2 separate regions of the Homo sapiens genome follow, and region 1 is linked to region 2. Evidence: fine-mapped expression QTL. A gene starts in region 2. The other region holds a variant in brackets. All regions are shown on one strand. Distances are between the middles of the regions. Region 1 has its middle 87 kb from the start of SPTSSA. Region 2 holds the start of SPTSSA (serine palmitoyltransferase small subunit A).

Evidence for each region.
Region 1: its variant is fine-mapped to the expression of SPTSSA in thyroid (GTEx, PIP above 0.99).

Annotation. Positions count from the first base shown.
Region 1 is chr14:34,372,501-34,377,882 of GRCh38, forward strand. No RefSeq gene overlaps it. Among named protein-coding and RNA genes, the nearest start is that of SPTSSA, 87 kb to the right of the region's middle. The variant T/C (reference allele first, on the strand shown) is at 2,670.
Region 2 is chr14:34,459,073-34,464,454 of GRCh38, forward strand. SPTSSA (serine palmitoyltransferase small subunit A) reads right to left here and starts at 3,168. Exons shown (of 2, transcript NM_138288.4): 1 at 3,024-3,168. The coding sequence starts at 3,135. RefSeq lists enhancers at 1-20, 2,381-2,490, 3,031-3,981 and silencers at 2,891-3,060, 3,181-3,690.

The sequences.
Region 1 (5,382 bases), 87 kb before region 2:
CTCATGAATCAATGCGAATGATGAACAAGGAGGTCACGTTCTCCATTCCACCTCCAGGCTTCCCATGCTACAGAGAGGAGCTTACAAATGGGGAAGAGGGTGGCCTCATCCGACACAATATCACAGAAGCAGTGAATGGCCAGCTAAGGAGAGAGGTGTCCCAGGGGCAGGCTATGCTGGCACTCTCTGGACAACAGGGCAATGCTGGGTTTTGTCAAGTCCAGAATCTGCAGACCTCATTTGCAGAGGCCTCCTTAATTTAACGAGAAGGAAACCCTTTTTTATCCCTGGGAGAGCCACTAACCAACACCACAGCAACTTACCTCCACAAACACATAGAGCAAGCTTTCATACCCACATCAAAGGGAAAAACAACTCTGTCTTGCAAAAAAGACATTTAATCCAGCCAAGGGAATTCCTGGATCCTCTCTGTGTTGGCCTTTGGTACAGTATTTTCTGTTGTTGCAGCTGTAAATTGTGAAATTTCTAACACCTGTCATCAACATACTTTGATAAAATCAGGTGAGTATGGATGAGGCCACACTTAGAACAAGCAGGTCTTTCGGGAGCAGGGATTGAGCAAATCATTGTGGAGAAGATATTTTTCTTTCATATGATGCCAGAGAAAGACTGAATCACAGGGAAAGAGTTGAGGAGCACCAGAGTTCTAATACTCAAACTTAACCATCCCAACCCGAGCTAACTGCATTTCTTAGACTGTATGGGGAAAAAAGGAGATGTTACCAACAGGATGTTGAACTGATTTCAACTCCTTGAGTGTGATCTCTCTTCCCTCCTGTCAGCAGGCTGGGACAGCACCCTTCTTCTTCCCTGAGGACAGATCCTGTGCCACTTCATTCCCTCACAGCCACCTTCTTGCTTCCTCCTCCTGCTTCCCCAATGCTGAGGCCAGCTAATTTGAGCCTTAAGATATTGCTACCACCATTGTTACTAAGCTCTTCTGAGCCCTCTTCTGTAGAGCTTAGAAGTTACAGAAGCTGGAACTCTTGCAGAAGTTACAGAAAGCTGGAAACTCTCCTCTGCCCTCCAAATTAAAATCACTTAACCTTGTCCGCAAAGGACAGCTGTCTAAACCTGCAAGTTGAGCTGGAATAGGAATCCTAAACTACTGTGGACCCCGACAACATCAGTCATTAATGAGGACATCTTGTTCTTCACATCTTTGAATTTCATTTCGGAACCATTCCTCAAAAGTAAGAGGTTTCTAAGGAATGAGACCAGGCACAGAGGCTCATACCTGTAATCCCAGCACTTTGGGAGGCCAAGGCAGGTAGATCACCTGCGGTCAGGAGTTCGAGACCAACCTGGCCAACATGGCGAAACCCCATCTCCTCTAAAAATACAAAACTTAGTCAGGTATGGTGGCATACACCTGTAATCCCACCTACTTGGGAGGCTAAGGCAGGAGAATCTCTTGAACCTGGGAGGCGGAGGTTGCAGTGAGCTGAGATCACGCCACTGCACTCCAGCCTGGGTGGCAGAGGGAGACTCCATCTCGAAAAAAAAAAAAAAAGGGGAATAAGGAGTTACTCAGCCTACCACCTTTTTACAGATCCCCAGCAGATGAAGTCACTGAAGCCAACAAACAGATCATTTACTTTTATTTCTAAAGAAGTTCAGCTAATCATGGACATGGATGGTGGTGATAGTTGTGCAACAATGTGATACACTTAATGGCACTGAACTGTGTACTTTAAAATGGTAAGTTTCATGTTATGTAATTTTACCACAATTTTTTTAAATTAAAAAAACTTTAAAGAATAAATTGGCCAGGCATGGTGGCTCACGCCTGTAATCCCAGCACTTTGGGTGGCCCAGGTGGGTGGATCACTTGAGCCCAGAAGATCAAGACCAGCCTGGGCAACACAGCAATACCCAATTTCTACAAAAAAATACAAAAATTAGCTGGGCATGATGGCATGCACCTGTAGTCTCAGCTACACAGGAGGCTGACATGGGAGGTTTGCTTGAGCCCAAGGAGGTTGAGGCTGCAGTCAGCCATGATGGTGCCACTGCACTCCAGCCTGGGTGACAGGGTGAGATTCTATCTCAAAAAATAAAAAAGAATAAATTGAATGCAACATTTTTTAAAAGTACAGCTAAGTCCCAGGTAGCTTAATGATTGCTGATTTATTACTATTAAATTATTTTTAAAGGGAATCTTAGTAGTATAGAAAGGATACCAGCTTCAAGAATCTGTGAAAATCAAAAGCAGAAAGATACATGTCTTTAGGTCAAAAATGCCATTATGGGGCAGGTGTGGTGGCTCATGCCTGAAAGCCCAGCACTTTGGGAGGCCAAGGCAGGAAGATCACTTTAGCCCAAGAGTTCAAGACCAACCTAGGCAACACAGTGAGTCCTTGTCTCTACTAAAAATGAAAAAAAAATTAGCCTGGTATGATGACAAGTGAGTGAGGAGGCTGAGGCAGAAGGATGGCTTAAGCCCAGGAGGTCAAGGCTGCAGTAAGCCATGATCATGTCACTGAACTCTAGCCTGGGTGACAGAGTGAGACCCTATCTCCAAAAAAAAAAAAAGTCTTTAAATTAAAAAGAAGTGCACTCTTTCTGGCATATGAGTACTGTCCCATGAGTAAGATTTCCTAAAGAATGTCACTAAGCTTTTCTTTCAGAAACCGGTTCTTCCACAA[T/C]GGCAGCTAGAACATTCAGATCAGAGGAGTGGCTTATAAGGGTTTCCAGCTTTTTCTTTAACAATAATACGTTGAACAGTTTGTTCTCATGATACCTCTCAGAAATGTCAAGAGACATAGTACTCCATTAACATAAGTGGAAAATGTTATTTGATTTTGCAGATGGTGAAATTAAGGCATGAAAAACCTAAATGACTGAGCTGAGATCATTCCATGAGAAGAGAAGTTCAGATTTTATATCCAGAGGCCACACTTTCCTACCTTCTGGATCAAGATCATTTAAGAAACAAAGGTCACTCACTGTGAATCAATTAACTCCAATGAACATCCACCCACACAAGCACCTACTCTCTTGAATCATGCCTACTGACTCACAATCCCCCAGGAGAGTCCAATACAGGAAGCCCCAAACTGGGGGAAATCCCTGCATGCAGCTTCCCTTTAGGGAAAGGGAAAAGGTGCAATTAATTGTTAATACCGTCAGCTTCACAGACAAGGAGTAGTGAGGGAACTGTAGAAGGTCTTCCAGGATAAGGTAGAAGGAGAGCTCAGCATAGCTCAGGTTCTAACTCACCATGGATGTCAGGCTCAAGAGACAAGGCACATCAGTCAAGAATGATCATGGAGACAGAAAACCCAATGATAAGCCTAAGTAAAAAAACAGATTATGACCATCTCTTGACCAACTATCTGTAGGAAGAGCTATTCTAGCCTGCTGCAAGGCCAAGCTGGACCAAAAACAAAAGAGAAAGCAATGAAATCTATCAGGAATGAATCTCACAGTTCCCTACCACCCTACCTACAAACGCATCTGCACCTGCCCTGAATTTCATATCCTCCCCGCCAGCCCCCACACCCCTCAGAAGAAGAAATAAACCAACCATCCTCTTCCCAACAAAGGTCATCCTTCTTGTGTTCTGGCTCCTACTCTGGCCCCCTCCTCAAGGTATCTATCACCTCTCCCATTTCCTTCACTTCTCCCTTTCTATTGCCACCATTCCTTTAGCACGGTGGTTCTTAGTATTTGTGGATCACAGATCTCTTTGAGAAGCAGGTAAATTTACATGCTATTTCCAAAGGCTTGAGAGATTCCCAGAGCCCTGGAGCCCAGGTGAAGAATCCCAGCTTTAGCAAAAGTCTCTTCCACCTTAAACCTTAGCTGCTAGTGGACATCTCTCTTTCCTTTCAAAGCAAGCTTCTAGGACACAGATCTTTGTGCCCCTTTCTTCTCACTCTCTCCTGAATCCCCTGCCCTCACTCCACTAAAAGCAATCCTGCTAAAGTTACCATTGACAGTCCAAATGCCAAACCCAAGGAGTATTTTTCCCCTCTCATTTGACCTCCTGCTGTATATCACAGCAACCCATCCCATATCCTGAAACTCTTTTCCTCAGTGTCTTGACATCACTGTGATAAATCCCTCTTAGAGCCTGGCCAACAATGTCTTCTTTTCTAGGAAATGCCCTTAACACCCAGTTTGGCCCCCAACCACCCTGTTTTTGTACTTGCAGCCCTCCCGCTTCCTGCCAGGGCTGACCACCCAGGGCTGGGCCTCACCAAGCAAGACCAACCAGTGACTTCCCAAGTATTTTGGAATAGAGAAGAAAAATGAAGTTATTGCATTTCCCAAAATGTTCTAGCCACAAATTCCAGTTACATGCCTATATCTGCATATCTGACTACTCCCGTATCTGTGTAAGACTCTCCTTTCTTTCCTTCAGTCGGTTTGCACTGGCTTCTGTTATTTGCCACCAATGAGTCCTGACTGATATAGACATTCCCTTGCTCCCAATTCACCTTTTCTCTCTCTGGCTGCTGCTTCTCAGTCTTCTCAGTAGGCAACTCCTCTCTGTCTGCCCCTTAAACACTGGTTTATCTATCAGAATTGTAGGGGATAATGGTTAGGCAGACAGAAAATTACTCATGTCAGTGAACCAGATTGACTGAAGCCTTTGGATTTAACTGAACCAGGCCAGGCCTCACTCAGAACAACCTATTTGCTATACAGGTTTCCATGGGAACATAAAACCAAGAAAAAACAATCTGAATAAATAGCTCCAAAGTTGGCTTTCATTAAGCCATACTTTAAAGATGAAATACTCAGAACATGTATCATTTTTTACAAAAGACCAGGACCACCAAAAAAAAAATATATATATATATACTCATATATGTCTGATTTGTAAGATCCAATAATCTGGACAATTTCTGATATGATAGTCAAAAGTCTCACTATAAAAGGGATGGGCTCCTAACATTAGATTCTCTTTGATGTGACACAGTGGGAGGTACAAACATCACTTACTGGTAAACTACTGAAAATAGCAGGTTTAAATCTAACTATGATCCAGGGTATAGGCTGTCGTGTGGGACAACTGATCTGGACTCTCAAAGTTCAGGTCATGGAGAACCAAGGAAGGTTGGGGGACTTCCTAGACTGAGACCACAGAGGGATCCTTCCTCTTCCCAACCCCTGCCACAAAAATCCTATTCCTCTGTCTTCTCTATCTTGAGAAATGTCAAGCTGACCAAGCCAGAAATGTCTCTCTTTCTTGCTCCATAAGTAATCAATCACCAAATCCTATGTATCTTATAAACTTTTCTTCTCTATCTCTACCCCACTGCCCTGTTCTTGTCTTCATTGTCTCTCTTAAACTAAATATTAAACAAGCATCCTCCCACTGGTCTTTCTTGCCTCCAGTCTTGCTGCCCT
Region 2 (5,382 bases):
ACTTCAAATTTTTAAAAATGCATTATATAGCAGGAAATGTAAACTAATGCATCTATCCTCTTTAAGAAATTAATCTGGGCCAGGCGCGGTGGCTCACACCTGTAATCCCAGCACTTTTGGGAGGCCAAGGCAGGCGGATCACTTGAGGTCAGGAGTTTGAGACCAGACTGGCCAACATGGTAAAACCACCCCACCCCCACCCCACCCCCAACTCCGCCTCTATTAAAAATACAAAAATTAGCTGGGCGTGGTGGTGGGCACCTGTAATCCCAGCTACCTCAGAAGGCTGAGGCAGGAGAATCGCTTGAATCCGGGATGCAAAGTTGCAGTGAGCCAAGATTGCACCACCACACTCCAGCCTCGGCAACAGAGCGAGACACCGTCTCAAAAAAAAAAAAAGAAAAAGAAAAAGAAGAAAATTAATCTGGCCAGGCGTGGTAGCTCATGCCTGTAATCCCAGCATTTTGGGAGGCTGCAGTGGGCAGATCACTTGAGGTCAGGAGTTCGAGACCAGCCTGGCCAACATGGCGAAACCCCATCTCTACTAAAAATACAAAAATTAGCCAGGCGTGGTGGCAGGCACCTGTAATCCCGGCTATTCTGGAGGCTGAGGCAGGAGAATCGCTTGAACCTGGGAGGCGGAGGTTGCAGTGAGCCAAGATGGCGACATTACACTCCAGCCGGGCAACAAGAACAAAACACTGTCTCACACACACACACACAAAGAAAAGAAATCAATCTGAAGTCTTCCTCTGTTCAGGACTTCTAACTCAGAGACAAATTTTCAGACAGGCAGAGGCAAATTTCTCTAAATTTTAGGTTTCTAGGATTGATGATTAAGTTGAATGTAATGTTTAAGCTGTAGAAAGTATGCCTCTTTCCAAAAGCCTGTAGCTGGCCACAGATTAGTTCTGGGTGAAGCTTACTAATCATTAATGGATTTATGAAATTCAAACTACTTCAGAGTAAGCCTCCTGACAAGTAGGGAAAAAAATCCAGTTTTCTCATTCAGTTCTTTCCACCAAGCTAAAATGAGGATTCAATCTCAAATTGATGTTCCAAACTATCAGATAGTTTTAAATGATTCTAGAAGTTGAAGTGGAAAAATATAAATACAACAGCTGATAGTAATTCAAGACTGGCTTATGTCAAACAATTGCATTTCTAACCTGAGTTAATTCAATAACGTGAAATTTGAAATAAGATTTTTTTATCTTAAGTTTAAAATCATAAGGTTCTATAATATTGGATGTCAGTTGGTTGCAGTTCTCACCTATTTGAAAAAAAAATTGAAACTACTTGTCGCTAAACCATGGTAACTCAAAAACATTAAAGGCAAATATCTACTAAGGCACTATATTTCATTTCATAATTTATTTCTCCATCCCCCAAAAAAGGCATCACCTAGTTATTTATAGGACACTATCACTATTGCAACATAACAGAAAAATCTTAACATCATTGATAACTGTAGCATTTTAGTGTGTAAAATCTATATTAGATTTTAGGTGTCAAATCTATACTAGATTCTAATAGTGCACTCTACATTCAACCTCTGATTTAAAGAGTTTCATTTTAACCCAGCATTGTTTAAATTAATTTTAGGATGTGTTATGTCAGTCAAGATATACTTGCTTCTACTGAGAGACTTCTATTAAATATGCATTCAAGTATATATTTTACAAGGCATGACCTTGCGAGCCCTAAAGAGTGAGACTAAACTGCAGCTACAAATAAATGGTGCAGGAAATCAAAGCAAACTATATTCAGAGTCTAAATCCAAAATATGCATTCTGGTTCTTAAATTCCAGGTTTGGAAAGAAATGCCAACAGTAATAAATAAATAAACTGCTTTGAAAGCATCTCAAATTCCTCAAAAGTGCTTAAACAAAAGACTCAGCTTTGAGTACAACCTTAAGCTATCTCAAAACAAATAAACACACTTGATAAGGCTTAGAATGAAATTACCTCAGTCACTCACTGGAATGCAACAATGCATTCGCAAAGTTATTCTGAAGTAAGCTACTCCAACTAAACCACACTGAAAAGGAGAGAACGTGGATAAACTAAACATGTTTTGTGAAATACCTGTTTTGTATTGGCCTGAGTTTTTTAAAAGTTACATCTCATTCATTATCAGTATTTAATCTGCAAGAATATCATCAAAGGATGTCAATATGGACAAGCAGAGACAAGAAACATCAGACTTTCAGGGAGCCTATCTTCACAACCCTGAGTTATTAACTGAAGTTCTCAAAGTTAGATGAGTTAAGATACAGACAACGTGCTTTGCACAAATGCTTTGCTTATAGTAACCACTCAATAGTCATTAACAAGAATTTATTAACTATCCACCAAAACACAGTTTCAAACCCTACCGACAACTAACCACAAATTGCACCACTTTTCGGGCCGACTTCTACGGACGGTGCACAGAAGCAATAAATACACTTTTAAAACTCCCCAACTTGAAGACCAAAAAGATACAATAACTTAAACTGCTTTCAAAAACTACTGGAGTGTCATGCCTACAAATTCAGAACCTGGCTTAAAAGCTAGTTAACTGACTAGAATTCTTGGTAGACCCAAAGCCAACTAAATCAGGAACACTTAAAGGTCAAAGGCGTCCAAGCCGGGAGCGATGTGCTCCACTGTTACATGATCCCCGCCTCCTACAGGAACAGGGGACTGAACCAAAGGCAGTTGCGGCCGAAGTGCAGGCGACACACAGGGTTACACATCACCTTCGGAGATTTCCTCCAGGAATCAAGACGCTTCCCCCTTGGGTCCAGCGACTCACAGGTGACCCCGGATCTCAAGAGTTCTCGTCTCCCCCACCCCCCACTTAACCCCGCGAGCGCCGCCCTCGGCCCCCAGACCTCCCCCTGCACCCCCGGCTTCCGCGCACAGGACCGGCGGGGCCGCCGCTCCAGCCTCCACCCCAGGCCCGGGGCCTGGGGAAATGCGGCCCCGCGGCCCGCGCCCCCAGCCCGGCCCCCGCGCGCGCGGCCGGGACAGGATACTGAACACCGTCCGCTCCCAGGGCTCCAGCATGTAGAGCGCCGTGACCAGCAGGTACTGGTAGTAGAACCAGGACATCTGCTTCCAGGCCCGCGCCAGCGCCATCCCCGCCATGCGCCTCCCGCGATGCAGCTCACACGTCAGTCTGTCCGGCCGGCCGCCCGCTCACGTCCTAAAGCCCCCGGCCGCCAGGCCCGCCCGCCCGCCACCCAGCGCCCATTGGCCCGCCCGGCCCCGCCGTCACCCGCGGCACGCCCAGACCCGCGCGCGCCCCGGCCGCCGGCCCCCAGCCCCGCCCGACCCGCGCTCATTGGCCAGGCCGCTACCTCGCGTCGCGTCGTCCCCTCCCGTTTCCCCGCCCGGGCATCGCCCACGCTAGCCGGAGAACGGTCCCCGCGAGAGCGCCCAGCCGCGCCCCACCCCGCCCGGGCCGGCCGGTGGTGGGCGGGGCGTCAGTGCCGGCCGGGGTCCCGGGGCCCCCGCAGCCCAGCGGGCGCTCGGTCCGTCCAGACTGGCCCAGAGCGCTTGCGGAAGAAATATTTCTGGAACACTTGTTATGCCTCAGGCATCCTTCTGAGAAGGAGGATTGCCAGGGAGAACCGGAATGCCTTCGGTTCCTTACCTTGTGCAGCTGGCGGCCTAGCTGGGAGACAAGCATTAATCAAGTCGTGATCCGTGTAAGAGGAGATAAGGGGCTGAGAGAGGGTGAGGAGGCGAACGCCACCTAATAAGGAGGTCTGGAAAGGCGTCCTTGTAGAAGGGATGCACATTCGGCCTCCTTCCTCCCTTCCCCCACCCATGCACACACACACACACACACACACACACACACACACACACACACACACCCCTAGACGGACATAACCCATGCACTCCCTAACCCAGAGACCACTTACCAAAAACATCTATCTGCCCACCTCTTAGTGGCTGTAGGTAACCACCAAGTGGGTCAAGGCCAGAAGCGCGCTGATCTAGTGGGTTCTGCAGAAGACAGGCAGCTTGAGATTGGTGTGAGGGCTGGTGATACTTCCCTAGAGATGCACTCCTGGATGCCCAGATTTTCCCACTGCCAGATGGGCCAGCAACATTGCACTGGCCACAAGGAGCTCCATGCACTGGTGTAGCATGTGAACTGCCACAATTAAATGGCCTGCTGTTTAAATGTTAAAAGTCTTCCAGGTTAAACATACTACTGCTTAAACTTTAAAAGTTTCATGGTTAATAACTATTCATTAAAAGTACCAAGTGCCGGCCAAGCGCCGTAGCTCATGCCTGTAATCCAAGCACTTTGGGAGGCTGAGGCTGGCGGATCACTTGAGTCCAGAAGGTCGAGACCAGCCTGAGCAACATGGTGAAACCCCGTCTCTACCAAAAAAAATAAGTAAATACATAACAAAAAGTTAGCCAGGGGTGGTGGCGTGCACCTGTAGTCCCAGCTACTCAGGAGGTTGAGGCGGGAGGATTGCTCGAGCACGGGAGGTCGAGGTTGCAGTGAGCCAGGATGGTGCCACTGCACTCCATCTTAGGTGGCAGAGCAAAAGAAAGGAAAGAAAGGAGACAGAGAAAGAGAGGAGAAAACAGAAGAGAAGAGAAGAAAAGAAAGAAAACAGTAAGTAATATCAAGTGCCAGACATTGGGATAGCAAGCCAGATAGACTGAGACCTGCCTTCATAAAGTACCCAGTCTGCTGGGGAAGAGAGGCAAGTTAATGGATTACAGTGAGGTGTGGTAAATGATATTTTTGTGGATCGTATCCTTTAGGATACCAAGATAGCCCAGACAAAATCAGATTGGGCTTGTGAAAGTCTTCTGAGAAATGGTGCTTGAACTGAGTGTTGAAGGACAAGCAGAAATGGAAGAATGAATGAGCTTGGGGAAGAGAGGGTGAGACAGACATTCTAAGGATGAAGTTGTGATGTTTTTAGAAGACTGGAAGAACTTCCATGTGGCTGGAGCAAAAAGAATGTATATGCAGTAGCAAGAGATGGGCCTAGACAGCAAACAGGGACCATATTCTGAAGGACCTTGTTTGAGAAGCTAAGAAATTTTTAACTTGATGTCCAAAAGTTACTGGAGCCAACAACTTAAATAAGATTTTCTTTCAGGGCTGGGTGTGGTGGCTCACACCTATAATCCCAGCACTTTGGGAGTCCAAGGCGGGTGGATCACATGAGGTCAGGAGTTCCAGACCAGCCTGGCCAACATGGTGAAACCCCGTCTCTACTAAAAATATAAAAAATTAGCCGGGCGTGATGGTGGGTGCCTGTAATCCCAACTATTTGGGAGGCTGAGGCAGGAGAATCGCTTGAACCCGGGAGGCGGAGGTCGTAGTGAGCTGAGATCACACCATTGCACTCCAGC